7 linked regions of the Homo sapiens genome follow. The protein of the gene in region 2 purifies or fractionates together with the protein of the main gene of each other region. This does not show direct contact. Each region holds a gene or a part of one and is shown on either strand. Other genes may lie near its edges. The genes, in order: PBX3, DNAAF8, MEIS1, DUSP3, ACOT9, CCDC85C and PRPSAP1.

The links.
Region 1: the proteins of DNAAF8 (region 2) and PBX3 purify together in Homo sapiens (affinity purification with mass spectrometry; 2 studies listed by BioGRID and IntAct, with this or other methods). This does not show direct contact.
Region 3: the proteins of DNAAF8 (region 2) and MEIS1 purify together in Homo sapiens (affinity purification with mass spectrometry; 2 studies listed by BioGRID and IntAct, with this or other methods). This does not show direct contact.
Region 4: the proteins of DNAAF8 (region 2) and DUSP3 purify together in Homo sapiens (affinity purification with mass spectrometry; 2 studies listed by BioGRID and IntAct, with this or other methods). This does not show direct contact.
Region 5: the proteins of DNAAF8 (region 2) and ACOT9 purify together in Homo sapiens (affinity purification with mass spectrometry; 2 studies listed by BioGRID and IntAct, with this or other methods). This does not show direct contact.
Region 6: the proteins of DNAAF8 (region 2) and CCDC85C purify together in Homo sapiens (affinity purification with mass spectrometry; 2 studies listed by BioGRID and IntAct, with this or other methods). This does not show direct contact.
Region 7: the proteins of DNAAF8 (region 2) and PRPSAP1 purify together in Homo sapiens (affinity purification with mass spectrometry; 2 studies listed by BioGRID and IntAct, with this or other methods). This does not show direct contact.

Annotation. Positions count from the first base shown.
Region 1 is NC_000009.12:125,914,268-125,918,389, forward strand, and holds part of PBX3 (pre-B-cell leukemia transcription factor 3), read left to right. Parts: intron 1-1,418; coding exon 1,419-1,660; intron 1,661-4,122. UniProt on the Homo sapiens protein: Transcriptional activator that binds the sequence 5'-ATCAATCAA-3'.
Region 2 is NC_000016.10:4,740,519-4,744,640, forward strand, and holds part of DNAAF8 (dynein axonemal assembly factor 8), read left to right. Parts: coding exon 1-141; intron 142-2,524; coding exon 2,525-2,642; intron 2,643-3,726; exon of another isoform or gene 3,727-4,122. UniProt on the Homo sapiens protein: In cyliated cells, dynein axonemal particle-specific protein required for deployment of ODA to the axoneme. Interacts with outer dynein arm (ODA) subunits.
Region 3 is NC_000002.12:66,511,230-66,515,351, forward strand, and holds part of MEIS1 (homeobox protein Meis1), read left to right. Parts: intron 1-919; coding exon 920-1,065; intron 1,066-4,122. UniProt on the Homo sapiens protein: Acts as a transcriptional regulator of PAX6. Acts as a transcriptional activator of PF4 in complex with PBX1 or PBX2. Required for hematopoiesis, megakaryocyte lineage development and vascular patterning.
Region 4 is NC_000017.11:43,765,299-43,769,273, reverse strand, and holds the end of DUSP3 (dual specificity protein phosphatase 3), read left to right. Parts: 3' UTR 1-3,149; downstream 3,150-3,975. UniProt on the Homo sapiens protein: Shows activity both for tyrosine-protein phosphate and serine-protein phosphate, but displays a strong preference toward phosphotyrosines. Specifically dephosphorylates and inactivates ERK1 and ERK2.
Region 5 is NC_000023.11:23,736,353-23,740,474, reverse strand, and holds part of ACOT9 (acyl-coenzyme A thioesterase 9, mitochondrial isoform a precursor), read left to right. Parts: intron 1-4,122. UniProt on the Homo sapiens protein: Mitochondrial acyl-CoA thioesterase. Catalyzes the hydrolysis of acyl-CoAs into free fatty acids and coenzyme A (CoA), regulating their respective intracellular levels. Regulates both mitochondrial lipid and amino acid metabolism.
Region 6 is NC_000014.9:99,520,432-99,524,553, reverse strand, and holds part of CCDC85C (coiled-coil domain-containing protein 85C), read left to right. Parts: exon of another isoform or gene 1-13; intron 14-2,313; coding exon 2,314-2,421; intron 2,422-4,122. UniProt on the Homo sapiens protein: May play a role in cell-cell adhesion and epithelium development through its interaction with proteins of the beta-catenin family. May play an important role in cortical development, especially in the maintenance of radial glia.
Region 7 is NC_000017.11:76,322,617-76,326,738, forward strand, and holds part of PRPSAP1 (phosphoribosyl pyrophosphate synthase-associated protein 1), read right to left. Parts: intron 1,684-4,122; exon of another isoform or gene 1,580-1,683; intron 1-1,579. UniProt on the Homo sapiens protein: Seems to play a negative regulatory role in 5-phosphoribose 1-diphosphate synthesis.

The sequences.
Region 1 (4,122 bases), on a different chromosome or scaffold from region 2:
CAGATAAAATTTTAAATTATGGTGAGTTAGTTTTATTATCCAGTTGAAATTATTCTGAAGTATAATTTTAAATGAAAGTGACAGCTTTAAAGTGTTTTGGGGAAGAAATTAAAGTTTTGCATTTGTGTTAAGGCAACCAAGAGCTCTGTCATGCCATGGATGTAATTCAGGGCATCTAGGAATGAAATCTGTTCTTAAAAGAATTGACGGTAGCTTTAGGTTAGCATATAAAATCAGAGTTGGTGATCAGTTGAGTACTTGGCAGCTTATAGATGTTATGTCATGTAAGTTACACTAGACACAAAGTGTGTACCACTGTGGATAAACAACAACAGGCACAGACTCAAAAGAGAATCCAAATACAAACAAGCAAGGTGCCAACTTCCTTTTCCCCTCTTCCCCAAGAAGCCTTGTAACTAGTGTAGGGAACCTGCTTTGAAGCAGATTTACAGAGGTTAATTGGGCTGGGATGTTTTAGATTATGTTACACATTAATGAAAATGCTGATTTTGAGCTGTCATGACTCCAATGCTTTTTATACCATGATAATTATTTTAAAACTTTGTCTTCTGTGTTGTTGAAAACATTTTGGCAGAAAGCCTGTGTGACCTGATTAAACCTATGAATTGTCAGCTATGATCTATAGTACTCAGAAGAGGTTGCTGACTGGGCATCACTTAGGAAGTTCTTGATTTAAAAGCAAAATTAGATTGAGACTACTGTGCCCAGCACTGTATTGCCATGTCAATGGCACATTTTTAATACTGTATTTAGTATCCTCGTTTTATAGTTTGCTGGCAATTGCTTAACAATATTCATTTAATAATATATATATATTTAAGTATAGCCAGTTACCTCATAATGTGTGTATTCCTCTTCTGAAATCACACGATGGAAAAGCTCATCTAATGTTGTTTATTTTTCAATTTTTGATTACAGCTTGTGAATTAACTATTTTATGGGAATTTTAATTCTGTTTCTCCAACTGTACAGAGAGAGACAGAATAACCACCTTTGGATGAGTTGTTTTATATCCCTGTAATTATTTTCTTTCTTTCTTAAAACATTCAATTTTTTACCCTCTTCCCATTTTATGCTTAAATTATCTAAATCTGGGAAGCTTGAATGATTAAAATATTCCAGGAAGCCAGGGTTACCTTTTTCTAAGGATCTAGTCTGTGGTAAATTGAGGCGGTGGGGGGGTATTTAAAATTCTAGGGTGCATGTAAACACTATCTTAAAAATAATTTTCATACTTATTCAAACTTACCGATCAAATGTGAACAATGAAGTTCTCAGCATGAATTGTAGTACACTGATGTTGTTTGATCATTTTCTCGAATAAACAAAATACTCACACTATTTGTCCTCTGTTTCTCGCTTCTTCTCTCTCTGTCTCTCTCTCTCTTTCCTTGAAGGTCTCAGCATCAGAGGAGCCCAGGAGGAGGACCCTCCCGATCCCCAGCTAATGAGACTGGACAATATGCTTTTGGCAGAAGGGGTTTCAGGTCCTGAGAAAGGTGGGGGATCGGCGGCAGCAGCTGCAGCCGCGGCAGCCTCTGGAGGTTCTTCAGATAACTCTATTGAACACTCAGATTACAGAGCCAAATTGACCCAGATCAGACAAATCTATCACACAGAACTGGAGAAATATGAACAGGTCAGCAGCCGCCACTCTCATAGTCCTACACAAACCCTCTGTTGCTCTTCTATTAGACCATGCTAACCAATTCTGAGGGCTGTGAGGGGTAGGTGTTAACACAAATTACAAAATAAATAAGGTCAGTGCAAAAATCCAAGTGAATTGTTGGATTCATGAAAGGAAGACCCTTTGAGATTTTGGAGGAGGAGCGCTACCTATTTTATCCCATCTACTTGTTTTAGTTTTATTCATTCCGCACATTCACGTGCCCTTATTACCACACCTGCAGTCATTCTTCCCTCTCACCTCACCACTTGGTGCTCTTCAAAGCTCTGTATAATTAACATTTATGCACTAGCCTTGTTCATAAGCTTTAATCACTTTTGAAGGGAAGCATTGCACAGTGAGCTTTTCCCTCCTATGCTGTGAGCTCCAGAATCCTCCTGGGAATTAATTCTTATGGATTGTGCCAGACTATAGGGAACTTCACCAAGTAAGCAGGTTCCGGCCTGTTTCTCTGAGTATGAGACCTCCCAAGATAATTATGGGTACCCCAGGACAGGGAATGCTAGGCAAGGCATTATGTGCTAAATTCCTTATTAGAAAGAGAATATGGGTTAAAAATCTGGTTCTCAGCAATTATATTAACCATACTGAATCTCAGATAACTTTAAGTTGCATCTTTATGTAACACCAAGAAAAAATTAATACTGCTAGTTTAACTATAAAATATTACTGATTATAAAATGCTTTCACATTTCAGAGATGTTAAAATGTGGAGAAAAACAAGAGAGTCTTAGATTTAATGTAATAAAGTAAAATATTGGTGGGTCTTTTTACATATATTTTAGTTGTTAGTTTAATGCTGAAAAGCTGCCAAGTTTGAGGAATTCTCATTTGATAAGATTTGTCATTTGGAAGGTAATTTTAAAAACGTATTATGAAACATTTTATAATACATGTACACAAAAATAATGAGAATAGTATTAGATTGAACCCTATGAAATTGCTAAGTTTTGAGGCCAAAAACAGTTGAATATGGTAATTTCATAGAGTTCAACCCCAAATAAGGAATCAGAATCAGCTAGATACTTTTTACCCAGATAAACAGTTATCAACATTTTGCCACTCTTATTTTGTGTACCCAGCCCCAATTTGGTAAGAGTATTTTAAAGCAAGTCTTAGACATCCTATAATTTCACCCATGAGTATTTCACTATGTAGGCAAGTACTTTTTAAAGTCCACACACTTTAGTGTGAAATGGGAGTCCTGGTGAGTTTTGTGTGTGTTTGTGTGTATTTTAAAGACTCTTTTAAAGAGGAGTTTTAAGTTCACAGACCAATTTGAGAGGAAAGAAGAGAGATATCACATATACCTCCTGTCCCCACACATGCATAGTCTCTCCCATTATCAGCATCCCCCACCAGAGGGGTTCATTTGTTAAAATTGATTAACCTACATTGACACATCATTATCACCCAAAATCCATAGTTTACATTAGGGTTCACTCTTGGTATTGTGCACTCTATGGATTTGGATAAATTTATGATGGCATGTACCCATCATTATAGGGTCATGCAGAGTATTTTCACTGCCCTAAAGATCCTCTGTGCTATTCATCCCTCTCTTCTTTTATTCTTTCCTTCCCACTGATCCCTGGCAACCCCTGATCAGTTTTAATACTGATTTTTTCCCCTCTACATTCCCTGTATAGTTTCAATTATATATATCGTTGTTTTTTCACATTGCCTTTTCTAATATTCTGGATACAATGGTATTAAGCAAATGCTGAATCCTATCCCAGAGGTGAGTGTGTTTTGAGGAAGAGTAGAAAAATTTGTATAGCTTTAAGTTAAAAAGTAGTGTAAATTAATATTATAAGGTGTTTTCTATTTTTGGAATAGGATTTTCTGAGATCTAAAATTGTATGTCTAGTCTCATTTGTAAGAATAACTTCTTGTGGAAAATGTACAAATAAGAATTTTGGAAAAATTATCGTGTGTATGTATGTAAAAATCCCACTTTCTGATTTGACATATGAATAATTGAGAGTAAACAAAATAAGTCATGGTTGAAAAGGTTGCCCCTGAGCATAAACAGTAGAAAATGACTCTTATTTGTAGTATAATCCTAATTGTATAACTTTATGCTAAAATAACTATAACTACTTACTAGATAAACACTACCAGTCACCTTGCATGGAAAGAGATATAATATTAGAGGCCAAATGGCCTGAGTTTTTTGGCTGAGGAATTAAGGTGATTCCTTACTACCTCTTGCCATGTGTCTTTACACCTGCCTCCTTACTTTCTCCATACACTCTGGTGGAAGTTGTGTGAAGCTGGTGTCAGTCAATGACAAGGTCCTGAGTCTCACTGTTTTAGAAATATCCTACAAAATTTTCCATGAGATTTTATGTAACTTTAGCCCCAGCTTATACCAGCATCAAATCACCAGGGTTTTTTTTTATTGTTTTGTT
Region 2 (4,122 bases):
GTCACCCGGGATGCCTGCGGCCCGACCAGCAGTGACAAAGGTGGGGTGAAGGAGGCGCCCTGCCACGCTGCGGAGTCAGCTCCCAGATCCAAAATGCCCCTCGTGGAGCCTCCGGAGGGACCACCAGTGCTCTCGCTCCAGGTAGGCGCCTCCCCGTGCCTGGCTGTTTCTCAGGCCTGTTACCTGTGGCATGGCTGCTGTTCCCATGCACTGGAGCTAGAAGCAGCTTGAGGGCTGGCCCACTAGGACCTTAGGCCCATTATCCACCATTCTGTGTACCTGTCTCAGTAGAGGGGTGGAGGGTCCCAGCAGAGCACATCCTGGGGGAGGGTTAACAAGAACAAAGAACAAGCAGGGCCTGCCTTCCTTAAAGAGAGAAAAGGAGGCCAGGCACAGCGGCTCGCACCTGTAATCCCAGCACTTTGGGAGGCCGAGGCGGGAGCCCCGGAGTTCAAGACCATCCTGGTCAACACAGTGAGACCCTCATCTCTAAAAAAAAAAGAAATCATCCTGGCTAACACGGTGAAACCCCATCTCTACTAAAAATACAAAAAAAAAAAAAATAATTAGCTGGGTGTGGTGGCGGGCGCCTGTAGTCCCAGCTACTCAGGAGGCTGAGGCAGGAGAATGGCGTGAACCTGGGAGGCGGAGCTTGCAGTGAGCCGATATCGCACCACTACACTCCAGCCTGGGTGACAGAGCGAGACTCCATCTCAAAAAAAAAAAAAAAGAAAGAAAGAAAGAAACAAAGAAAGAAAGAATGTATAAATTTAAAAAGAGAGAGAAAAAAGGAATTCCACTCCCGAGGATGTTCATAAATACATATAGCCATATCTAAAATATAGAACCTGGTTCTGTCAAAGCCTGATCTCAAAATATGAAAGCCCTCATTCTCATAAACTAGTGAGCACCTGTTAAAAAGTTGTATTTAGTGCATTAATGAGGGAACCAGCAGGATGACAGTGCCGGTTTAATGAGATCATAAGAAACTGGGATTTTGGCCAGGTGTGATGGCTCACGCTTGTAATCCCAGCACTTTGGGAAGCCAAGGCAGGAGGAAAATCTGAGGTCAGGAGTTCGAGAGCAGCCTGGCCAACATGGTGAAACCGTGACTCTATTAACAATACAAAAATTAGCCAAGTGTGGTGGTGCGCGCCTGTAGTCCCACTATTTGGGAGGCTGAGGCAGGAGAATCGCTTGAACCCAGGAGATGGGGATCACGCCCCTGCACTCCAGTTTGGGTGACAGAGCGAGACTCCATCTCAAAAAAAAAGAAATTGGGATTTTGTAAAACACTGGGGAAAAAGAGAGGAATGCAGAGATACGCTTGTCACATTCATGTCCTAGAGGAGTTATCTTGTCTACTGGACAGAAAAGTAACCATCACACCGTCTCGGTTTTACACATTTTGGATAATTTTTCTTAACAGGTTAGAGAAAACTGGCACCAGGTATACACAGAAGTCATCTTTACTACTGTTTAAATCAACCGTTCTTTCTGCTCACCTAAAAACTTATTTTTCTCCACTTAGAGGGCTGCAAAGAGTTGAAAGGTCATATGATAAACATGAATTCTTGATTAATTTCCTCCCTCCTCCTCAGACTCACTCTGCCCCTAAGCACTCACTGCCAAGCCTTCCAGTTTTAGCTCCTGCCTGGAACAGCTTGATTCTTAAAAGAACAAAATTTTTTAACCTCCAAACATTGTGAACCTGTATGAACCTAAATAGTGTTTCTGAAAACAACACAGGGTTTGGCTGGGCTCGGTGGCTTATGCCTGTAATCACAACATTTTGGGAGACCCAGGCAGATGGATTGCTTGAGGTCAGGCATTCAAGACCAGCCTCGCCAACATGGTGAAACCCCATCTCTACTAAAAACACAAAAATTAGGCTGGGCGTGGTGGCTCACACCTGTAGTCTCAGCACTTTGGGAGGTGAAGGCGGAGGTGGAGGCAGGTGGATCACCTGAGGTCAGGTGTTTGTTCGAGACCAGCCTGGCCAACATGGTGAAACCCCATCTCTACTAAAAATACAAAAAAAAAAAAAAAAAAAATGAAGGGTGTGGTGGCGCATGCCTGTAATTCCAGCTACTTGGGAGGCTGAGGCAGGAGAATCACTTGAACCTGGGAGGTGGAGGTTGCAGTGAGCTGAGCTCGCACCACTACACTCCAGCCTGAGCGACAGAGTGAGACTCGGTCTCAAAAACAAAACAAAATGAAACAACAATACAGGGTTTCCTTCGGGTCAGACAACGTCTTTGTGCCAAAAACAAAAGTGAAGTACTGATCCCCAAGAAAGCATAGGAAGGAGGTGGCAAAGTGCAGGCCCACCTTAACGGAGGCGTTCAATCTGTAATGGAAAGGCGGGGTCAGCCTATTTGCAAACTCTGTCATGCACTGAATTCCTGATTTCTACCCCCAACATCCTGTGACCATCTCCATGGGTCACAGCAGCTGTGAAGCAGGTACTTGTGCCTCTGGGACCCCTCAGCATCCTCATAATCACTGGTTTTAATGATTTCAGCAACTTGAAGCGTGGGATTTGGATGACATCCTTCAGAGTCTGGCGGGACAAGAAGACAACCAGGGAAATCGTGCACCTGGAACTGTGTGGTGGGCAGCTGACCACCGCCAAGTTCAAGGTCTGACCTTGAACACTGGAGCCCACGTGAATCCCCACAAGCAGCACCTTCCTGGGCCCCTCAGACACAGAGGGCTGCAGGCTGGTCACAGACAGTCCTGCAGCCCACACAAGTCTTCCCTGCTGGCCCCGCCCTAAACACTCATGCTGCCAGTCCCCAAAAGACTTCATTCATTCAACATATATGTGACCGCCTGCTACGTGCCAGGCGTGGGCCAGGTCCTAGGGACAAAGGAGAGGCCTCCGCACCCCACCCCATGACCCATACCTCCTCTTCCCCACCTCCCTGGGCCAGCCTGCCTTCCTTCTCCCTCCTCCTCCTTCCTGGGGGAAGGAAGCCCCACCTTCTGTGCGCAGTCAGCTCCTAAGCACGCTCCCGCTTCCCCTGGCCTCCCCATTTAAAAAGGGAGGCAAAGGATGTCACCACTGTCACTACACTCATGGCTTTGCTCTGGGAAGTCCTGCAAATAAAATGAAAGTTCTCCAACCCCTCCCTATCCACTCGGGCCACAAAGGCGAGGGGAGGCAGGTCTGAGGCAGAGGAGCCAGGGCAGGTGCGGCGCTTCCGCCTCTGGTCCCAAAGCAAAGACTCCCCTGTGACTGACAGCCCGTGTTATGTTAAATACATTTTGTTGGTTTGTAATTCAAATCCCATAAAGCAGGAGGTAGAGAGCCAACCATTCTGGAGGACATGTGTGTGCATGTGTATGTGTGTGTGTAACTGGCACTCCCTTTGTGGAGGGGAGTAGGGCAGAATGTATTCTTTTTTTTTTTTTTTTTTTTTTTTGAGACAGAGTTTCACTCTTGTTGCCCAAACTGGAGTGCAATGGCACGATCTCGGTTCACTGCAACCTCCACCTCCCGGGTTCAAGCGATTCTCCTGCCTCAGCCTCCTGAGTTGCTGGGATTACAGGCACGTGCCACCACGCCTGGCTAATTTTTTTTGTATTTTTAGTAGAAACGGGATTTCACCATGTTAGCCAGGCTGGTCTCGAACTCCTGACCTCAGGATCCGCCTGCCTCAGCCTCCCAAAGTGCTGGGATTACAGGCGTGAGCCACCGCGCTTGGCCGAATGTATTCTCTGTTTTAAAGGCACATAACCCTTTAATCAAGCTATTGCAATTAGAAAATCTGTCTTACACTCTGACTCTAGTAGGTAAAGATGTGTGTTCAGAGCTGTTTGCTGCAGTGTTGTTTAAAAATCTGAAAAGCTGGAAACAACCCATATTCAGGAGGAGTCCAGCTAGATCGTTTTAGCACAGAATACACTGCGGCTCGATGAGGGGATCTCCGTAGGTTAACGTGGAAGCATGTAATATACAAAGTGAAAAAAGTGAAGTTGAAAAAAAACCTATAGAGGATGACCCTATTTTTTTTTTAAGTCAACACACAGAACTGTTCATTATGATCACCTGTGACAAGTGGGACCGGGGTGTGAGGAAGTGGGATAAACTTAAAAATACGTCACTCCTACTTCACC
Region 3 (4,122 bases), on a different chromosome or scaffold from region 2:
GTTAAATTTTTATTTTTTCTTATTAAACATGGCATTTTAAAAAAGAAATACTAACTTTTTAAATTTCATTATGTCACAGAGCCAAAATATTTTCTAGAATAAAGAGTGTAAATGTTATAATAAAAATCAATAGAAAAATAGGATCCAATATAGAGGAATATGTTAGCAGGTGATTTTTCAGTGTGAAAAATGCTAGGTTTACCTAGCATGAATTTTAGAAACTGCCTGAATTATTAGTGTAATACAATTCTAATTTACTATTAATTTAGCATTACCTTATTTGATTTACACAGTAATTGTTTTTTAATTAAGAAACTATGTCAGGGGTTTTTCCTTTACTAAACTTGATGCTTTCTCTCTATTACAAGAAAAATTATATTTTATTTGAAGCATTCCTATGTCAAACTGCTTATATGATGGATTACCTACATTTCCCCATCCTAGTTTAACTAGTCTTAAGATAGATCACTTGTGGAAATAGTTGATATCTTAAATGAATCTTCTCACAAGTCAATGTCAATGACTGTGGGATTTGAATGCCCAGGCAGCCATAGCGCCACAGCTAATGACTGCCACCATGTTTAACTCCCCGGTAGGAGTTACACTTAACCTGTCTCAGCTATACATATTGGAATAATTACCATAGCAACAAAGCCACAAGGGGATTGGATATTTCCCTCCATTCCCTTTGACTTTTGGCAATGTTCTTTGGAAGAAGTTCTTTAGACCTGACTGCTCTTGAGCCTAGGCCTTGTTCTTTCTCTGTCTTGGAAAACAAAACACAACAAAAAAACAGTACCAAAGAAACTATTAATCATTTAAATTTGCTCTTTTGGTTTTGTTTATATCCAAAGGCATTCTATTTGAATAAAGCATGTCAAGGTAGCATCAGTCAAAATTTGATTCGCTATGTTTGCAGGTGATGGCTTGGACAACAGTGTAGCTTCCCCCAGCACAGGTGACGATGATGACCCTGATAAGGACAAAAAGCGTCACAAAAAGCGTGGCATCTTTCCCAAAGTAGCCACAAATATCATGAGGGCGTGGCTGTTCCAGCATCTAACAGTAAGTGGATTCTAAATGACATATATAAACTAAATATGGACAATGAACCAGTTTTTATACAAAAAAATGAGAAAAAAGTGATCCCTCTGGACTTGAAATATTTAATAAATAACTGTGTTCCCACAGTTTTTGCAAAAGTATTAGCACTTATTTCTTAGATAGATACCCCAAATGAGAAATTTTATTTAAAATTCACGATTGCGATTTTGTTAACTTTCATAAGTTAAAAGATTTAGGTGTTCATGTGCACTTGTGATTTTAAGTATGTGTTTTAATGATGTTGCTTTTCTAAGTGTGACCCTTAAGTGCTCAGAACCATCTCCTACTAAGAAGAAAGTTAGACAAACCCTAGAGAGAGACTTAATATCTTCTGATGCTTTAGTGGATCTTTACAACAAATGGTCCACAAAAATTTAAATCATGTTGCAATGGCAAGATGATCACATAATTTGCTTTTAAGTGGTTTGAATGCACTGGCTTCCATTACAAAACATTCATGTAAGTCAGAGCTCCACAGTGAAAGTTGTCCCTGTATTTAGAACTGTAAAGGAAAACAGCAATATAGAGTCAGCTCTTCCTGTGTAGTCCCTTGTGACTTTTCAAGCAGAGTAACAGTTTATATTGTCTGTGCCAGTATTGCTGTTTTCACTGCAGGAATTCTCCTGGAGATGTGAGAAACTGGAGATTTGGGGCTTTATGCCACTGGGGGATTTGTTTTGTTTGGTTATTGTTCTGAATGAATTTCATGTTCAAAATATTTATAATAATAATATTTTGGTGGATATTTTTGTAAGTGCATACCAATTTAAAGAAGAAGATACAATGAAGATTTGTGGATAAAATAATATTTTAAAAATCAACAAAATTGTTGACCAGAGGAATTTCAATATTAGAGACAAAGGATGAATTTAGACAGGTTGTAGCAAAGTTACATAGATGGATAAATGTTAAAAACTCTTGAGGGTTGTTTTTTAATATCAGGAGAAAATATTTTGTGTTACTATTTTTGTCTTAGCTTGCTTTTCCTAAAGTCAATTTTTCCTTAAATATTAAAGTTAATCTTGCATTGTCATAAACACTTGCAGAGCCTGTTTACCTTCATACCTGGGCCCACATTCAAAGCCATGTTCCTCAGTGAGTTTTACGGGTACAGAGATACAAACTCAGGGGATGTCTGCAGGTCATGTTAGTTCTGCTCCTCTGGATAGAGGCTGTGCCTCTAATAATACTCAAGGGTATAAATTAATCCAGATTTTCCAGCATCAGTGAATAAGATAAAAGCTGAGAGCAGCAGGAATAGCTAAAAAAAAAAAAAAGTTTCCTCCCTTCTCTTCTTCCCATAATAATTCCAAACAGTATCTAGACTACACTACAGTTTTTGAGTAAACTTCAGGGCTTGGCTATGCTGGAAATTAGTTGGAGATTTAGATTATTTGAGCTGTTTTGATTTTAACATCATATTAGGTTTACCTAGAATCTGATTCAGGCACCACTACTTATCTGACACCTGTTGCATGTGTGTAGATATTTCAATATCTGACTCCTGCAAATTCCCCACTGAGGATTATCAATCACTAATGAACTAGGGGAAAGAGGACTCAGGTCTTGAGGGCATATCATGAAAAACGAATGATATGACATTTAGATAAGAAGTGGCAATTGGTCAAAGGTGTGGTACAATGATGCTGATGCAATGATGCTAATATTTTATCTCCAGAAATAACCAGCTAACTCGCTGTGTGGAATGAGTTGGTGTGGTGGATAAAATCAGGTTGGCCCTGAAGTCACAATCAAATAATTTCTATTTCCTATAGACTAACAGAAACAATGAATAGATTTCTTCAGCCCCCATCTCAATCTGCAAAGGAGTTTTGGCTTTACTTGAAGCTGAGGTGCCCCTGAATAAAATATAATCAAATATTGGTTCAGACAGAATCAGGAGAGAGAGAAGCAAGCTATTTTATGCAGCCACTAGTTTTCCTGTTTTTCTAGGTTGTACCCTTGTGAAGACCCTTGCATAGAGCTACATTATCTTCTTGAAACAAACAAACAAACAAAAAACCCAAATAAACTTTCTAACAGCCCGCATGATTTTACATGCATTGCATTGCTTATATGGACTATGTGTTTGTTACTGGGGCAATTGTAATCGAAATTATTCATGAACTGCCTGATTTCTTGAGACCTAAATAATAGTCTTCAGTTTTGAGGTCTTTGCTGGCCTGTGCCACTGCCCTGGAAGGGGAAGCCCATTCATCCATGTTTCCCCAGCTTTCTGTGAATGTTTATAGGTGTTACCTTGTGGTTTCCATTGGATATTTCTACCTCCATTACCCACTCCAATGCCATCTGCTCATACAGAAATATTGATTAATGATAATGGTCTGTAGATAGCTAATTGTTCTTATAACATCATCTGAAGAGCAAAGTTAAGAGATATGTTTAAATTTTTCATCTTTTCCTTCCCCCAATGAAAAAGATTCCTTCCCACTTCTCTAATTGCAAGAGCAAATAGACCTCCAGCTATAAGGAACACCCGTTACCCTTGTTTTGTAATCCTTCTTGAAGGAATGCATGGACTGCTTAGGTAATATTTATAGTAAGGAGCTAATTTTAATAAATTCTATTTTAAAAACCTATAGAATCTAAAGAGAGTTTTGTTGTTGTTTGTCTAAATGTAAGTAACCACTGACATCTCAGTACTAATTCTTTAGTGACTTTATTTCAAGTTCTGGGAGGTCTTCAGGGATGCACAATTCATTAGGAAGACTGTACAAATTTTAAATGGTCACGTCATTGCTATGTGATTAATGCAACTTATCTAGGAAATCCTTTCTGAATTCTTGCTAGATGTAAAAAAGCCATTGAAATTCTGGCTAATTAAAACAATAGCAATACCAATTTATTAGTAAACTGTAAACTAGTCTTTTTTTAAATGTCAAAAGACATATTCGAAAACCTCTCACACCTTTTAAAAGCAAATTGCTATTTCTTTTTAAAATAAATGGATCAATCCTTTCACTGGGTTTATTCAGTGAAAAAATCTGCCCTTGAAAA
Region 4 (3,975 bases), on a different chromosome or scaffold from region 2:
ATGCTCACAGAGGTCCCTCATGACCTCCCTTCCCCAACTCCCGAATCCTCTCTTGAGTGTGGACCTCAACACCTTGAGCCCTAGTAAAGGAACTATGCAAATGCAGGCCACTCTCCCCACCACGTCTGTGCCCTGCACTGTCCCCACAGCCTTCCACACCCTGTGCATAGGCAGCCCTCTCACGTCTTGAGGTCCGAAGCTGGGGTGGGGGTGTCCGTCAGTTATTAGTGGATGGAGATTCCCACAGCAAGGCTGCATTTGAATGATTTCCTTAGGATGAATGGTCCCTACACAAAGAGGCCTTGTGGGCAAACCTGGAGAACCCTCCTAAATCCATAGAGTTTTCAAAATGTGAATCTTTGGAAGCCTTGAGTTCAGAATCTGCTGCTCTGGAATATTTCCCTTCGATCTTATCTCAGTCACTTCGTTTTTGAGAAGAGTGATGCCTTGGGCATGCTTTTTTTTTTTTCTTTTTTAGAAAACAGGGAGTTGAAGTCCAACCTATTTAAAAACCCCACCATTTGGAGAATTACAAGGGTTTTGTCCTGAATTGTAGTGTTGGCAAGCCCAAGCCACTCGTGCTAACTGCTTTTTGTCTCGGTTGCTATTCCAAGAACAGAAGGAGGAAGTTGGCCAATTACAGCGTGTGTGCATGGATGTGTGTGGGGGGCGTGCCTCTCAGAAACGCGGCCAGAAGACAAGCAGGGAAGTGAAAGGTCCCAGGCACACACCCTGCCCATTGCAGGTGGCTCTTACAGCTCTCTGGTGCCAGCACGGGATCCCTGAAGTGACTCAGCCAGGCAGACATGAGACATGGCGGAGTGTCCAAATGGATCCTTTATTGGTGGTAGAGCAAAAAAACCCAAACACGATAAACCTTTCAAAAGACTTTCTAAGGATGATATTGGAATGCACCAGCCCTCACATGTGTATGCACATTTGCCAGAATATAAGAGTTTTGTTTTAAATACAGTCTTGTTAGGATTTTACGTTATTGTTATTATGGAAAGTGATTGTGATGCTATTTATCTTCAGGGTCACTCTGGGCAAAGAGAAGGTCCTCAGCCATGCCCCCAGCACCTTGCACATAGGTGTCTGATAAAAGTTTAAGAAAGTAAACACTTTTTGAGCACCAAATATATATAGGGCATTGTTCTGGTGGGTGTGTCACGCTCCCAGAAGACTGAATTCATGGTAGGATCACTCGCAAGGCCTTGTGAAGGAGTCTTACCTAAAACGAAAGAAATATCAGGGACTTTTGTTGACTATTTACAACTCAGTTTTACATTTAAATTCAGGCAGTGTTAATATGCCAAGGTAGGGAATGTGCCTTTTTCAGAGTTGGCCAGGAGCTCCTGGCTGGGACACGGAGAGGCAGGTGTGGCGTAAGGCCTCACTCCCGGCTGGGAAGGTCTCTGATCACACAGAAGCAGCCCTGCCCAGCCTGGTCATTTGCTGTCCGCTTTTCTCTGTGACCACAGCAGCCCTGAACAACCAGTATGTGTCTTCTTCTCCAGATAGTGAAAAAGGTGTCCAGATAAACCCACCTAAGTGAAATGGCCATCCTCTAAACTGGGTACCTCACTGCACAGCTTCTAGGTAGCCTTCCAACTTAATCTAACTTGAGCCTCACAGTAACCCTGTAAAGTTAGTAGAGCTTGTTCTTGTATTGTGACCTTTTTTAAAAAAAAGGAACTGAGGTTCAGAATGATTAAGGGCCTGGCCCCCAGGGTTGTCCAGCTCCATAAGGTGGAGCTGGGCAAGATTTTGGGTTTGCTGCTCCCTGAAGCTGGATTCTTTCATACGATACTCTTTCTCAAGAAGGGGGCTCCCTGGGATCTCCAGGTGTACTGCACTTACCCTCAATCCAGCCCCGGAGAAGCAAGTGAAAAGGGTGGGTCCCTCATAGGCTAGAATGTGCAGCTCTTTCTCCAGGTGGGATGTAGCACCCCGAAGTAGAGCTTTCTGCTCTGCTCCTGGAAAAGGCTAGGGAGCTGGGGCTGGGGCTCCCCTCCCATGACCAGGCAGTGGTCACCCCATGGGACAGGCACAGCTACTTACGCGAACACAGCAGGTTGGTGTGGCTGGCTAACTAGGACCTCTCGAAAGTCTCTGTGGGGGCATGAGGGAGAAAAGGCCATTGGGAGAATTACTGCCTTTACTTTGGGACTACTTTTATGCTGATAACTTGGGATTTCTTGATAGTCCTTCACCCCTGAAACCCCGTATTTACTTAACAAGATTTAGCTCTTAGTTCTTCAAGTAAAATTAAAGTCTCTTGTGTAAGAGCCAACACATGCCCAGCTGCGGATGGGAGCTGTTCCTGGACAGCCTTCTACTGCCTGGGAAGTGATGGAACAGGAACTCAGGGTGCCCTTACCCCCTCCCCAGACCTGTTCCCTTTCTTTGACTGACAGAGCACCATCCAGGCAAAATTAGAGCGCCAAATGGTTTTCTTCTCAATCTTAAAGCAGTATACCTTTCCACAGGCTCGTCTGTGTCCCTGCCACTCTGAGTTATCCAGAAACCACCACCTACAAATGAGGGGACTCATCTAGAAGACCTCTAAGGTCCCCTTTTGGCTCTGAGGGGTCTCTAATAATCCCCACTTGGAATTCAGCACCGCAAGGAAATTATGGGTATGTGAGCCATAATATGATGGGCAGCAGGTGGCGCTGCCTTCCACCCATGGTGATGGATGGTTTGGAAAGGGAATGTTGGTGCCTTTTGTGCCACAAGTTAAGATGCTACTGTTTTAAAGGAAAAAAAAAAAAAAAAGTACTGATCTTCAATATGAAGACATGAGCTTTTCTCGCAGGAAATTTTCTTTTTCACAGAACTGGTGTCAGGAATCACTGAAGGGCTAACCGTGATAGTCCTTGCAAGTAAGTCAAGGTTTTATCCTGATTGGAAATAGAAGACATTTCCGGTTGAGAGAACAGATTCGTTGGAAGCTTAACTTTTGTTGCCTCTTAACGCCACCAAATTTTAGGGTAATTTGATTATGAAAGAGTGAATTTTTCTGGACAGAAAAGGGAGAGCTACCAAATTGTTTTTTTCTTTTTAAAAGGAAGTTTAATGTCCGTTGTATCACAAATCAGTGTTAAAACACCAGAACTTTAGCCAAAATAAATGTCTTACATTACAAAGGTATTGTTTTTTTGTCCTTCTTATCACAGTTGGTATTCTTTTACGTTTTTATGCTTAGCTTTTTTTGTTTGGGCTTAGCTTTTATATTTGCGATTTCTAACTTTTTAAAAATAATCATCTAAAACATAGCCGTTCTGAGCTAGTTATAGGTTCCATGATGGCACTGTTTATGCAGTAGATATTGATGAACACCTTTCCAGTACCAGAAATGTTCTGGTAGGAATATTCTTAGGTAGAATGGCCATAATGGTCCTGAATGAAGGAGGTAAGGTTTGTGCTTCTAAGAAAGCAGGGGACTAGGGTGTTCATCTCAAGGTAGCCTCACGTGATGACTGGGTGACATTTTGAGATTTGAGTGATCCTGCAAATGAACAGTCCCTAAACATATCCCCTTCCCCCAGATGCCTTAAATTCCACTATTGGTGCTATGTTCCTTTGAATAAAAAACCTTAGAGAAAGTAGTTGCCTTTTCCTCCCAGACAGAAGTCTGGGCAGAGAAAGCCTCTCGAGGTTCCCATTCCCTCTATCACATGAAGCAATTGGACTCGCTTCCTGTTTGTCAAGACTCTGACAATGTAATCTTTATGGTTCTACACAAAATCTTAAGGCAGAGCACTAAAATATAAAACAGGTAAAAGTTTTTAAGTATAATTTTTAAAAAATTTTTCATTAAAAATAATACTATATGTACATAGTAATACACTTAAACAATGCAAAAGGCTTATACGGAAAAGTGAGTCACTTGCTCCTTCAATCTGTCTCCCCATAAGCATCATATCCTTAAAGGAAAATGTCAAGCATATATAAGCACACATATGTGCATAC
Region 5 (4,122 bases), on a different chromosome or scaffold from region 2:
GAGGTCCACAGTTTCCATCAGATTATCAGTAAATAGGATACCAAATGTAGTGAAAAGTTACCATTACATGCCAGGCGCGGTGGCTCACGCCTATAATCCCAGCACTTTGGGATACTGAGGCGGGCAGATCACTTGAGGTCAGGAGTTCAAAACCAGCCTGGTCAACATGGTGAAGCCCTGTCTGTACTAAAAACACAAAAACTAGCTGGGCATGGTGGTGCACAGCTGTAATCCCAGCTGCTCGGGAGGCTGAGGCTGGAGAATCGCTTGAACTCGGGAGGTGGAGGTTGCAGTGAGCCAAGATGTTGCCACTGCACTCCAGCCTGGGTGACAGTGAGACTGTCTCAAAAAAAAAAAAAGTTACCATTACCCGAATACTCTTGAATGCTATGTTGACAGTATGATATAGATTTATTATTACCAATATGCTATTGGTATAAGCAACATTTTTTTAAAAAGTGTTCCAATTATGCCTTTGTTGTGCCACAGGAATGTATTTCCAAATTTTTTAAGGCAGCATGCAAAGCAATGGGGCTCTAGGACTACAATTTTCCAAATAAATTGGCCCAAGTGTTTCTCTGTATTCATTAACTCCCTTCTTTTCTCTCCTCATTTGATTCTATGTTTGGCAGTGGTCCGTGATAGTGCCTGGCTTAGGCTATCTTTCCTTTTTTTTTGGAGACAGAGTCTTGCTCTTTTACCCAGGCTGGAGTGCAGTGGTGCGATCATGGCTCACTGCAGCCTCGACCTCCCCGGGGCTCAAGTGATCCTCCCACCTCAGCCTCCTGAGTAGCTGTGACCACAAGTGTGCACCACTACGCCTGACTAATATTTTAAAATTTTTTTGTAGAAACGGGATCTCCCTATGTTGCCCACACTGGTCTCAAGTGATCCTCCCGCGTTGGCCTCTCAAAGTGCTGGGATTACAGGCGTGAGCCATTGTGCCCAGCCTGGTTCTTTTTGATCTTTAGGGGAGACTTTGGAGAAGCATGACTTTCTGGAATAATGATAGCTAGAGATTTTTGAGGACTTGTCAGTATATTAGACATGCTCTTCTAGACGTGCCCTTCAGGGTTTAATATGTGTTAATTCCTTTATCCTTTTGACAATCCTATGGGATAGGTAGTATTATTATCCCCATTTTACAGATGAGGAAACTGAGGATCAGGGAGGTTAGGTAACTTGTCTAAGGTAACTCAGCTAACAAGCAGCATGATTGGGCTCTTTTTTTTTTGAGACAGAGTCTCGCTGTGCAGTGGCACGATCTCGGCTCACCGCAGCTTCCGCCTCCTGGGTTGAAGCAATACTCCTGCCTCAGACTCCCGAGTAGCTGGGACTGCAGGTGCCCGCCAGCATGCCCAGCTAATTTTCATATTTTTAGTAGAGACGGGGTTTCACCATATTGGCCAGGCTGGTCTCAAACTCCTAACCTCAAGTGATACGCCTGCCTCGGCCTCCCAAAGTGTTGGCATTACAGGCATGAGCCACTGCGCCCAGCCTTTGGGTTAACCCCTATACTGTATTGCCTCTCACACAAACAGGATGGAATGATTTTCATCCCTCTTCAGAAAATGCTGCTTCTTAGTGTAACAAAACAATTTCTGTGTATATGTGTATTTATTCAGGTATGTGAGACTGGTTATATAGCTCCTGTTAGTGATGCGTATTCAGGGTATTTAGCCATTCAGAATCAGATCCCATTTCTTATGTTGGATACATTTAACGTGTCTATTATAGTTCCTATTAATGTGTTGGGGGTCATGATTTTTTTGCTCTTTCAGCTAATGGTAGCAATAGAAAGGATTAGCTTTTTCCAGTGTGTTCTTTAAAACCAGATATATTCAGTTGTAGAATGCTAGTTTCTTTTTTGAGATGGAGTCTTGCTCTGTTGCTCAGGCTGGAATGCAATGGGGCCATTTCAGCTCACTGCAACCTCTGCCTCCTGGGTTCAAGTGATTCTGCCTCAGCCTCCAGAGTAGCTGGGACTACAGGTGTGCGCCACCATGCCTGGTTAATTTTTATGTTTTTAATAGAGATAGGGTTTCACCATGTTGGCCAGGCTGGTCTCGGACTCCTGACCTCAGGTGATCTACCCACCTCAGCCTCCCAAAGTGTTAGGATTACAGGCATGAGCCACCATGCCTGGCTGCTTGTTTCTGAGATGGAAGAATGAAGGAATACTTACTCTGTTTCCTTCAGTAAGGCATATGAACCTATAGAAGATACATAAAACAAAATAATGAAAAAAATGGAAAATTCAAATCACGTTCTGAGAAAATGCAGATTAGATGGTCAAAAACAAAAAGACGGCCAGGTGCGGTGGCTCATGCCTGTAATCCCAGCACTTTGGGAGGCCAAGGTGGGCAGATCACAGGGTCAGGAGTTTGAGACCATCCTGGCTAACATGATGAAACCCCGTCTCTACTAAAAATACAAAAAATTAGCCGGGCGCGGTGGCGGCGCCTGTAGTCCCAGCTACTCGGGAGGTTGAGGCAGGAGAATGGCGTGAACCCGGGAGGCAGAGCTTGCAGTGAGCCGAGATCGCACCACTGCACTCCAGCCTGGGCGACAGAGCGAGACTCTGTCTAAAAAAAAAAAAAAAGACAAATATTAATCTGTATACGAAAGTACAGGAATTGAATATTTATCGTGAAAAAGTGAAGCTAAAATATTTAAGAGAGAGGCTTGTTAGCTGTGTGATTGAAGAATAAACAGATCCAAAACCCCAAACCCTCCAGCAAGAATTTTGGTCTTAGTGGACCAGCAGGGATTGTATTGCAACCAAATAAGATGACTGGTGACTAAGAAGTTCAATTAGCCAATGAGTATGTGCTCATATTTCTGTGTTCTGTGCAATTAGATGATTTGACTTGGTGAAAGGATAAGGATTTGTTCTAACAGCACAGTGTCAAAACTGCATGTAGATTTTACAGAATACTGTAAATACTGAGAGGCTTTCTCTGAATGCTGTCATTCAGAAGAGAAACCTATAGTAGCTTGGTCTGTAAAGAAAACTAAAAATATCTCTTTTTTTTGTTGTTAGTCATTGCTTATTCCCACATTAGGTGGTGAGAATTTACTAGTAAATTGAACTGGAATGAGTGACAGTATCTGGGGTTCTGGGTTTTTTTTGTTTGTTTGTTTTATTTTTGTTTTTGTTTTGAGACAGAGTCTTGCTCTGTTGCCCAGGCTGGAGTATAGTGGTGTGTTCTCGGCTCACTGCAACCTCCATCTCCTGGGTTCAAGCGATTCTCCTGCCTCAGCCTCACAAGTAGCTGGGATTACAGGTGCCTGCCACCACACCCGGCTAATTTTTGGATTTTTAGTACAGACAGTGTTTCACCATGTTGGCCAGGCTGGTCTCGAACTCCTGACCTCAAGTGATCCACCTGCCTTGGCTTCTCAAAGTGCTGGGATTACAGGCATGAGCCACCACGCCTGGCCTGCGGGGTTCTTAACCTATTCAGTGCCTTGCCTTCTTCAACTGTGCTCTCACAGATCAGTTTATTAATCTGTGATATTGCCTGTGTGCTACCCCTGACATAATATTGTGTGATTAGGAGTCAATGCTTAAGCAATAATGAACCAAAATCAACTTATTTTGGGAGAGTAGGTTAGGCACATTTAGGTAGACAGCTTTTATTTTTTATTTTTTTGAAGCAGGGTCTCACTCTGTTGCCTAGGCTGGAGTGCAGTGGTACAATCTTGGCTCACTGCAGCCTCGACCTCCTGGGTTCAAGTGATCCTCCCATCTGAGCCTCTTGAGTAGCTGGGACCACAGGTGCATGCCACCACGCCCGGCTAATTTTTGTATTTTTTGTAGAGATGGGGTTTTGCCATGTTGCCCAGGCTGGTCTTGAACTCCTGGGCTCAACCTGTCTACCTGCCTCAGCCTCCCAAAGTGCTGGGATTACAGGCCTGTGCCACCGTGGCCAGTAGATAGCTTTTATTTTATTGTGTTGGGACTCTAGAAAATTTCTGCGTAAGTTAAATAAATACTTTCTTTGCATCTGGAAAGGGCTAATTCAATTTTCAAAGTTTACTTTATAATTGGGTTTATCTTATTTATTGAGGAAATATGGTGCGATAATAAAGAACAGAATAAATTGTTCATAATGAGTT
Region 6 (4,122 bases), on a different chromosome or scaffold from region 2:
ATGGACATGCAAATGTTTATAGAGGCTCACCGAAGGCAAGGGTGGGAATTGCGTGCAGCTAATTAAAAACCTCCCTCACGCTCACGCACACACATCTCCTCCCAGGGAAATTATCTGGGGGAGGGGAGGGGACGGCAGCACAAACCTGCGTTTTCGGTAACAGCACGTGGGAGCCCATTTGGTCGAGGGCCAGAGAGGATGTGGAGGAAGGGACGCCGGAGTCCAAACAGAAGCTGAGCAGGGCAGGGCAGGGCCGGCTGAAGGGGAGGGCAGCTGTTCCAATCCCAGGTGTACCCTTCCTGGCTGTGTGGCCCAGTAGTCAGACTGTGTGTATGTGCACGCACGCATTCAGAGTGTGTGCTGGCTTAGAATGCATTCTCCATTGGAGAAGATTTTGTAACTCTCTTACTGTTGCAGAGTCCTGGCCAAGAAAATCAGGTGGTTTGGAATTTTCGCCCTTAAGTGGAGCTAGGGGTACATCTCTCAGGAGAGGTGACCCAGAGAGGCATGGGTGGCTCTGATGGGGTGGGGGGAGGGGTGTCACTCATGGTTGGGGGAGGGTGAGTGCTGGGCCTAGGGGTGGGGGCTGTAGCCTCTTCCTCTTTTTGGTACCTGGTGGGTGGGGAGGGGGCTTTCCTTGATCTGACCTCCACCTGCGGGCCGTGAGTGCCTCTAGTTAACCTAGGCAGGGTCAGCCAGGGTTAATGCCGTGGTCAGGGCATGGCAGTCCCATTTGATGGTTCAGGGCTGTGCCCAAGGCCCCCGTGCTGAGACCCCTTTGTGATGCTCGCCAGGGTTATCTAAAACCCATCACACTTTGGGGGCCCTGCAGGAAGGTTGGTTCCCACTTCTCTGTCTCTCCTTTATGTCCCTCCCTGACCTTGGACCACACCCAGGTCCTCCCTGAGGCCCAGGAAGCAGCTCCCAGCCTCCAGTGCCCGGCTGCCCTGGCTGACCGGCGTCTGGTGGGCGTGGGCTATTTAATGAGGGGAGTCAGTGCCGGATCCCTGCTTTCCTGTCTTGGCTCCGTGGGAGCTGGTAATAGAGCATCCACTTGCCTCCTCACCCCCGCAGGACACGGCTGTTTGCTGGCCCTTGAGCCAAGCTCTTGAGACCTCCCAGCCCCAGTGGGGGGCCTGGCCAGGGCTCTGATGGGGCTGGGAGAACACAAGAGCTGGACCTCAGTGAGGCTGGGGCTTGTGAGAAGTGCGGGGCCAGGTCCAGCTTTTGAGGGAGGCAAGCAGGGTGTGTGTGGGATCTTTCACAGCCAGGCCGAGGGGCTGGTGAGTGGAACTGGGACCCCAGACATGGCTGCAGCCTGTCCTGCCTTCCTTGCCCCTGCCCCAGCCCAGCCCCAGCCTGGGCCTCCCCTGCCCCTGCAGTTTGTTTGGGTAACTCAACAGCCTGCTGATTTATGGGACATTCCGCAGGGTTTTATCTGCCCAGCCACTTTCTCTCAGTTCCTTTGAAGTAGAAAAGGGTGTTTCGGCCAGAAACACCCAAAACCCTTTAGTGATGCAGAAAGAAAAGAAAGGCCGGGCCTTCTGCTGGGCCGGGCCAGGGGAGGGGCACTGTGGGACTGACCAGAGAAGTTTATGGGACCTGTGGATTCATTCTGGCTCCTGGTCCCAGCCCCAGCCCCAAATTCTGGGGGTCGGTGGTGTTTGCTTTGCTCTTAAGCAAAGGGTCTAAGGCCAAGCCTTCCTCCCTCCCTCCTGTGTGCAGGAGTTAGTTACAACCCCACAGCTTGCACGAGTTCTCAGGGATTCAGAGGCAGCACCCAGGACCTGCTTTAGGAGCTCCCTGCCCATCCGATGGGGGAGGCAGCCTGGGCGGAGCATCCCGAGAGAGCCCCGAACCCGTGGGAGGTGGGAGGCCTCGCCTGTGGATGTGGCCCCATCTGCTGCCGATGGCTGGCCCAGGCCCTGTGAGTGGTGCCGTCTGTGCAGGGACCCAAGGGCAGGAAGTTGGAGCGGAGGAGCCAGGGTGAGTCACGGGGTGGGAGAGACACTCTCTCCTCACTCGCTCTCACTGGCTCTTCTTCATTCATTCATTCATTCTGTTTATTCAGCCATCCAACAAATGTTTACAAAGCCCACGTTGGAGAGTGGATCGCTGACATTTGAGCTGGGGAGAGTGAAGATCGATTGATCCCGGCTCGGGGGATGGATAAGCGGTGTGGAGGGGAGGGTGGAGGGGTCCTCCGGGGCCGTGCCTTTGAGCAGCCCCTGCTGCCGTGAGGAGCCATGCCCAGGGCCCTTGTCCTCCTCAGCCTGGCCCTCCGTCTAACCCCTCTCCTTCTCTCCCCTGCAGCAGGCAGGCTCCGGAGAGTTCCGCACGCTGCGGAAAGGCTTCTCGCCCTACCACTCGGAGTCCCAGCTTGCGTCCCTGCCGCCCTCCTACCAGGACTCCCTGCAGAACGTGAGTGTGCACCCCAAAAAAGCCCACATGTTCTGGATGAGGGGCTGAGGCTCAGGCGGGCCAGTGACCTGCCCGGAGGGGCACAAGGATCTGGGTGCCTGAGTTCAGCCCCAGCCCTAGGCCCTGTGTCCGTGTCCCATCCAGTGTGGCAGTTAGAGGCGGAGCCCCAGGTGGGTTGACACTGCTGGAGGTGCGGGGCAGTCTCCAGAGGCCACGTGCGCAGGGCTGCCCGTGCCTAGCCCCTGTCCCTCTGAGCAGCTCATTAGCCTGTGCCACTCCTTGGCCACGGTGGGGAGAGGGTACCCGGCCAGCCCTGGAGCTTGGGGTTCAGGTTTGTGGATTCTGCACTGAAATGACCAGCCTGATGCCTCCAGGGGTATCCTCTGCCCCTACCTGGCTGACCTGGCCTGGAGGGAATGGGGTGGGCGGCTTGGAGCCAGCTCCCGGGAAGTGGAACCTAGCTCAGGACTGTGCCCTGTAGATAGATATGATGGCAGTGGGGAGCCACAGGAGTCCAGGCCCACTTGCCCTCCTAGGACTGGGGGCCTTGCCTTGTGGGACTTCACGCCTCCAGGAGCCTTGGTGGGTGTGTAGCGGATGCTTGGGAAGCATCGGCTGTTCTCGTTGCGGCACCTGCAGAGCCGTGTATGGAGGTGCTTCTTGGGCAGCACGTGCGCTTGTAGCAGCTGTGCCCCTTCCTGCTCTCTTCCCTGCACCCCTTGCCCACAAGGCTGACCCCAGGCCCCCGGTGCAGAGCTTGCTGGGCCTCAGTGCTGGCTGCTGGCTCTGCGATTTCTCTTTTGCTGCCCTTCCACCTTCTCCAGGAATGCAGCTGTAGAGCCTGTGCAGGCAGCAAAGCCCGCCAATGGCCGATATTCCAAGCATTTATCCGGAGTCCCGTGGCTGAACGAGGCTCTAACTGTTTCATGGTGGAGGGCTCTGAAAAGCCAAGGGATGCCCTCACGGGGCTGGCTCCTTAGTCTTCATGCCCCGTGCCTCTCATTCATTCAGATCGTGGGAGGGAGTAATAGCAGCTAGCAGTTACTCAGTGCTATGTCCTGAAGTCTTCCGCGTGGCCTGCAGGTTGGGAAGTGCTGTGCAAGCACAGCTCTCACATGTACCAGGCCCGCCAGATGCTGTCTCCCTGCAGGCCTCTGGAGAGCACACCTCAGGCATGGGCCGAGCCTCAAGGCCTGAGAGTGCGGATAAAATGCTGTCAGAGTTCAGGAATGTTCAGGAAGGCTTCCTGGAGGAGGCAGCCTTGGGAAAGGGTTTGTTCCTCTTGCCTCCTTTTTTCCTCTAGACTGCTCTGTGCATGAAGGGGTGTCCCCTACTTTGGAGAGGAGGAAGTGAGGCTCACAGGGGTGGGGTGGATGGCCAGGGCCCCATGGTGAGTGCGTCCTGGTGCCTGTGTGTGCCTAGAGGTCAGGGGCCAGCGTGGGGGCTGTGCAGGGGTCGCTCCTCCATGAGGCCAGGAGGCCGGGTGATAAACTGAGGTTCAGGGGCCATGATCAGGGCTGGTCGGCGGGCAGGCCCCCAGGAGTGGGATGAACTGAGGTGCAGGGGCCGTGATCGGGGCTGGTCGGCGGGCAGGCCCCCAGGAGTGGGATGAACTGAGGTGCAGGGGCCGTGATTGGGGCTGGTCGGCGGGCAGGCCCCCAGGAATGGGATGAACTGAGGTGCAGGGGCCGTGATCGGGGC
Region 7 (4,122 bases), on a different chromosome or scaffold from region 2:
GATTACTTGAGCCAATGAATTTGATACCAGCCTGGACAACAAGACAAGACCCTGTCTCTACTAAAAATTTCTAAAAATTAGCTGGGTGCTTGGGCACAGTGGCTCATACCTCTAATCCTAGCACTTCGGGAGGCCAAGATGGGTTGACTGCTTGAGCCCAGGAGTTCATGACCAGCCTGGGCAACATGGCAAAACTCCGTCTCCACAAAAAATACAAAAATTAGTCAGGTGTGGTGGCACGTACCTGTGGTCCCAGCTTCCAAGCTACTCAGGAGGCTGAGGTGGGAGGATCACCTGAGCCCAGGTGGTAGAGGCTGCAGTGAGCAGTGATCGCACCACTGCACTGCAGGTCTGGGTGAGAGAGGGAGATCCTGTCACTGTACTCCAGCCTGGACAGCAGACAGAGACCCCGCCTCTAAAATAAAATAAAAAGAAATACATTTGGCTGGGCGTGGTGGCTCACACCTATAATCCCAGCACTTTGGGAGGCTGAAGCACGCAGATCACCTGAGGTCAGGAGTTTGAGATCAGCCTGGCCAACATGGTGAAACCCTGTCTCTATTAAAAATACAAAAATTAGCTGGGCGTGGTGGTGCACACCTGCAATCCCAGAAACTCGAGAGAATGAGGCACGAGAATCACCTGAACCTGGAAAGCAGAGGTTGCACTGAGCCGAGATTGCGCCACTGCACTCCAGCCTGGGTGACAGAGCAAGACTCTGTATCAAAAAAAAAAAAGAAATACATTTTATAAGACTATAGATGCCATAGATAGTGATTCCTCTGAAGGACCCAAAGTAAACTGAAAATCTCTGGAAAGGATGCACCATTCTAGATGCCATGAAGAACACGCGTGATTCATGGGAGGAGGCCAAAATATCAACATTAACAGGAGTTTGGAAGAAGTTGATTCTAACCCTCATGGATGACTCTGAGGAGTTCAGGGCCTCCATGGTAGAAGTAACTGCAGATGTGGTGGAAAGAGCAAAAGAACTAGAATTAGAACTGGAACCTGAAGCTGTGACTGGGCTGCTTCAATCTTATGATAAAACTGTAATGGATAAGGAGTTGCTTTGATAGATAAGCAAAGAAGGTTTTTTGTTTTTTTTTTTGAGATGAATCTACTGCTGAAGATGCTGTGAACTCTGCTGAAATGAAAACAAGGATTTAGAAGTATTACAAAAATTATTTGATAACACAGTGGCAGGGTTTGAGAACAGTGACTACAATTTTGAAAGTAGTTCTTTCGGCTGGGCGCAGTGGCTCACGCCTGTAATCCCAGCACTTTTGGAGGCCGAGGCGGGCAGATCACCTGAGGTCAGGAGTTCGAGACCAGCGTGGCTGACATGGTAAAACCCTGTCTCTACTAATAATACAAAAATTAGGCGGGTGTGGTGGCACACATCTGTAATCCCAGCTACTCGGGAAGCTGAGGCAGAATTGCTTGGACCCAGGAGGCAGAAGTTGCAGGGAGCCGAGATGGTGCCACTGCACTCCAGCCTGGGCAACAGAGTGAGACTGTCTCAAAAAAAAAAAAAAAGAAAGTAGTTCTTTCTTCTAGGTAAAATGCTATCAAACAGATCATTTTGTAGTTCATAAGTGTGATCATTGGGTGTTCACGCTTACATGTGAGATGTGCCATCCTTGAACCTTGTTAGAACATCAGTACATCACCTGGCTGACATTTTAAAAAATGCTGTCAGCCGGGCGCAGTGGCTCACGCCTGTAATCCCAGCACTTTGGGAGGCTAAGGCGGGTGGATCATCTGAGGTCAGGAGTTCCAGACCAGCCTGACCAACATGGTGAAACCCTGTCTCTACTAAATACAAAAAAAATTAGCCAGGTGTGGTGATGCATACCTATAATCCCAGCTACTTAGGGAGGCCGAGGCAGGAGAATCACTTAAATCCAGGAGGTGGAAGTTGCAGTGAGCCAAGACTGCACCACTGCACTCCAGCCTGGGCAACAAGAGCGAAAACTCCATCTCAAAAAAAAAAAAGCTATAAAACAGCATTACATGCTACAGAAAGATCTTTTGTGAAAGGAAGAGTCAATCAACGAGGCAAACTTCGTTGTTTTAAGAAATTGCCACAGCTGAGCACAATCACTCTTGCCTGTAATCCCAGCTACTCAGGAGGCTGAGGTATAAAAATTGCCTGAGGCTGGCAGGGTGCAGTGGCTCACTCCTGTAATCCCAGCACTTTGGGAGGCCAAGGCGGGCGGATCATGAGGTCAGGAGATCGAGACCATCCTGGCTAACATGGTGAAACCCCATCTCTACTAAAAATACAAAAAAAAAAAAATTAGCCAGGTGTGGTGGCAGGCACCTGTAGTCCCAGCTACTTGGGAGGCTGCGGCAGGAGAATGGTGTGAACCTGGGGGGTGGAGCTTGCAGTGAACTGGGTGAACCACTGCACTCCAGCCTGGACGACAGAGAGAGACTCGTCTCAAAACAAAAAAAAAAAAAAGAAAAGAAAAATTGCCTGAGGCCAGGAATTCAAGACCAACCTGGGTCCGGGCACAGTGGTTTACGCCTGTAATCCCAGCACTTTGGGAAGCCGAGGCGGGCGGATCATGAGGTCAGGAGATGGAGACCATCCTGGCTAACTCGGTGAAATGCCGTCTCTACTAAAAATACAAAAAATTACCCGGGCGTGGTAGCGGGTGCCTGTAGTCCCAGCTATTCGGGAGGCTGAGGCAGGAGAATGGCGTGAACCCGGGAGGCGGAGCTTGCAGTGAGCTGAGATCGCGCCACTGCACTCCAGCCTGGGCGACAGAGCGAGGAGACTCAGTCTCAAAAAAAAAAAAAAAAAAAAAAAAAAGACCAACCTGGGAAACAGACCCCATCTCTTAAAAAAAAGAAAGAAAAGAAATTTCCACAGCCCATCCCAACTTTCAACAACCACCACCCTGATCAGTCAGCAGCCATCAACATCGAGGCAAGACCCTCCACCAACAAGATGGAGGCTCAGATGACTGCTAATTTTTTTTTTTTTTTTTTGAGACAGAGTCTCGCTCTGTCACCCAGGCTGGAGTGCAGTGGCGCGATTTCAGCTCACTGTAAGCTCCACCTCCATTCTCCTGCCTCCATGCCATTCTCCTGCCTCAGCCACCCGGTAGCTGGGACTACAGGCGCCCGCCACTACGCCCGGCTAATTTTTTGCATTTTTTTAGTAGAGACGCGATTTCACAGTGTTAGTCAGGACGGTCTCGATCTCCTGACCTCGTGATCTGCCCGCCTCAGCCTCCCAAAGTGCTGGGATTACAGGCCTGAGCCATTGCGCCTGGCCAACTGCTAGTATTTTTTAGCAGTAAAGTATTTTTAAATTAAGGTACGTACATTGGTTTTTAGACACAATGATATTGAGCATTTAACAGACTACAGTATAAACATAACTTTTACATGTGCTGGGACATCAAAAAATTCATGAGACTCACTTTATTATAATATTCACCTACTGCAATGGTGCAGAACTGAACCTGCAATATTTAAGGTATTCCTGTGACGACAATGAATTATAACCCACTGAATGAAATAGGCCTATGAATCCATACTGATATAAATGAAGAAATGAATAGGGAAGAAGAGAAAGCTTTCTTGCATTAGAAGGTCAACTAATAAATGTAGAAGGAATGATAGAGTTAGAAAAATGAACACTGACAACAATCACAGTCAATAATTGATTCAGGCAAGAATCATCAGTAGATGTTCATTTTGATGAGAAGCAGAATATTTACAGTTAAAACATAGTCTTAACATGAGGTAGTATTAATTACAAAGAGGAAAAAAAAAAGAGTAACTTTACAGTGGAGAAACCTGCCAGAGAAACCTTAACCAACTTATCAGAATGCACATCACCAGTAATGGGACACATCATGTGTTTCCTGTGATTTTCTGCCAAAAATGCATAACCTGAATCTAATCCTGAGGACACAAACAAGCCCCAATTAAGGGAGAGTCTACAAAATCACTTGATCGCACTGTTCAAAAGTATCAAGGTCATAAGAAACAAAGAATAAAGCAGCCACTCCAGATTAAATGAGACTAAAAAGAAATGACAACTAAATGCAATGTGTGACCCTGGGTTAGGTCTTGAACAAGAAAACAAGTTTATTCTTTTGC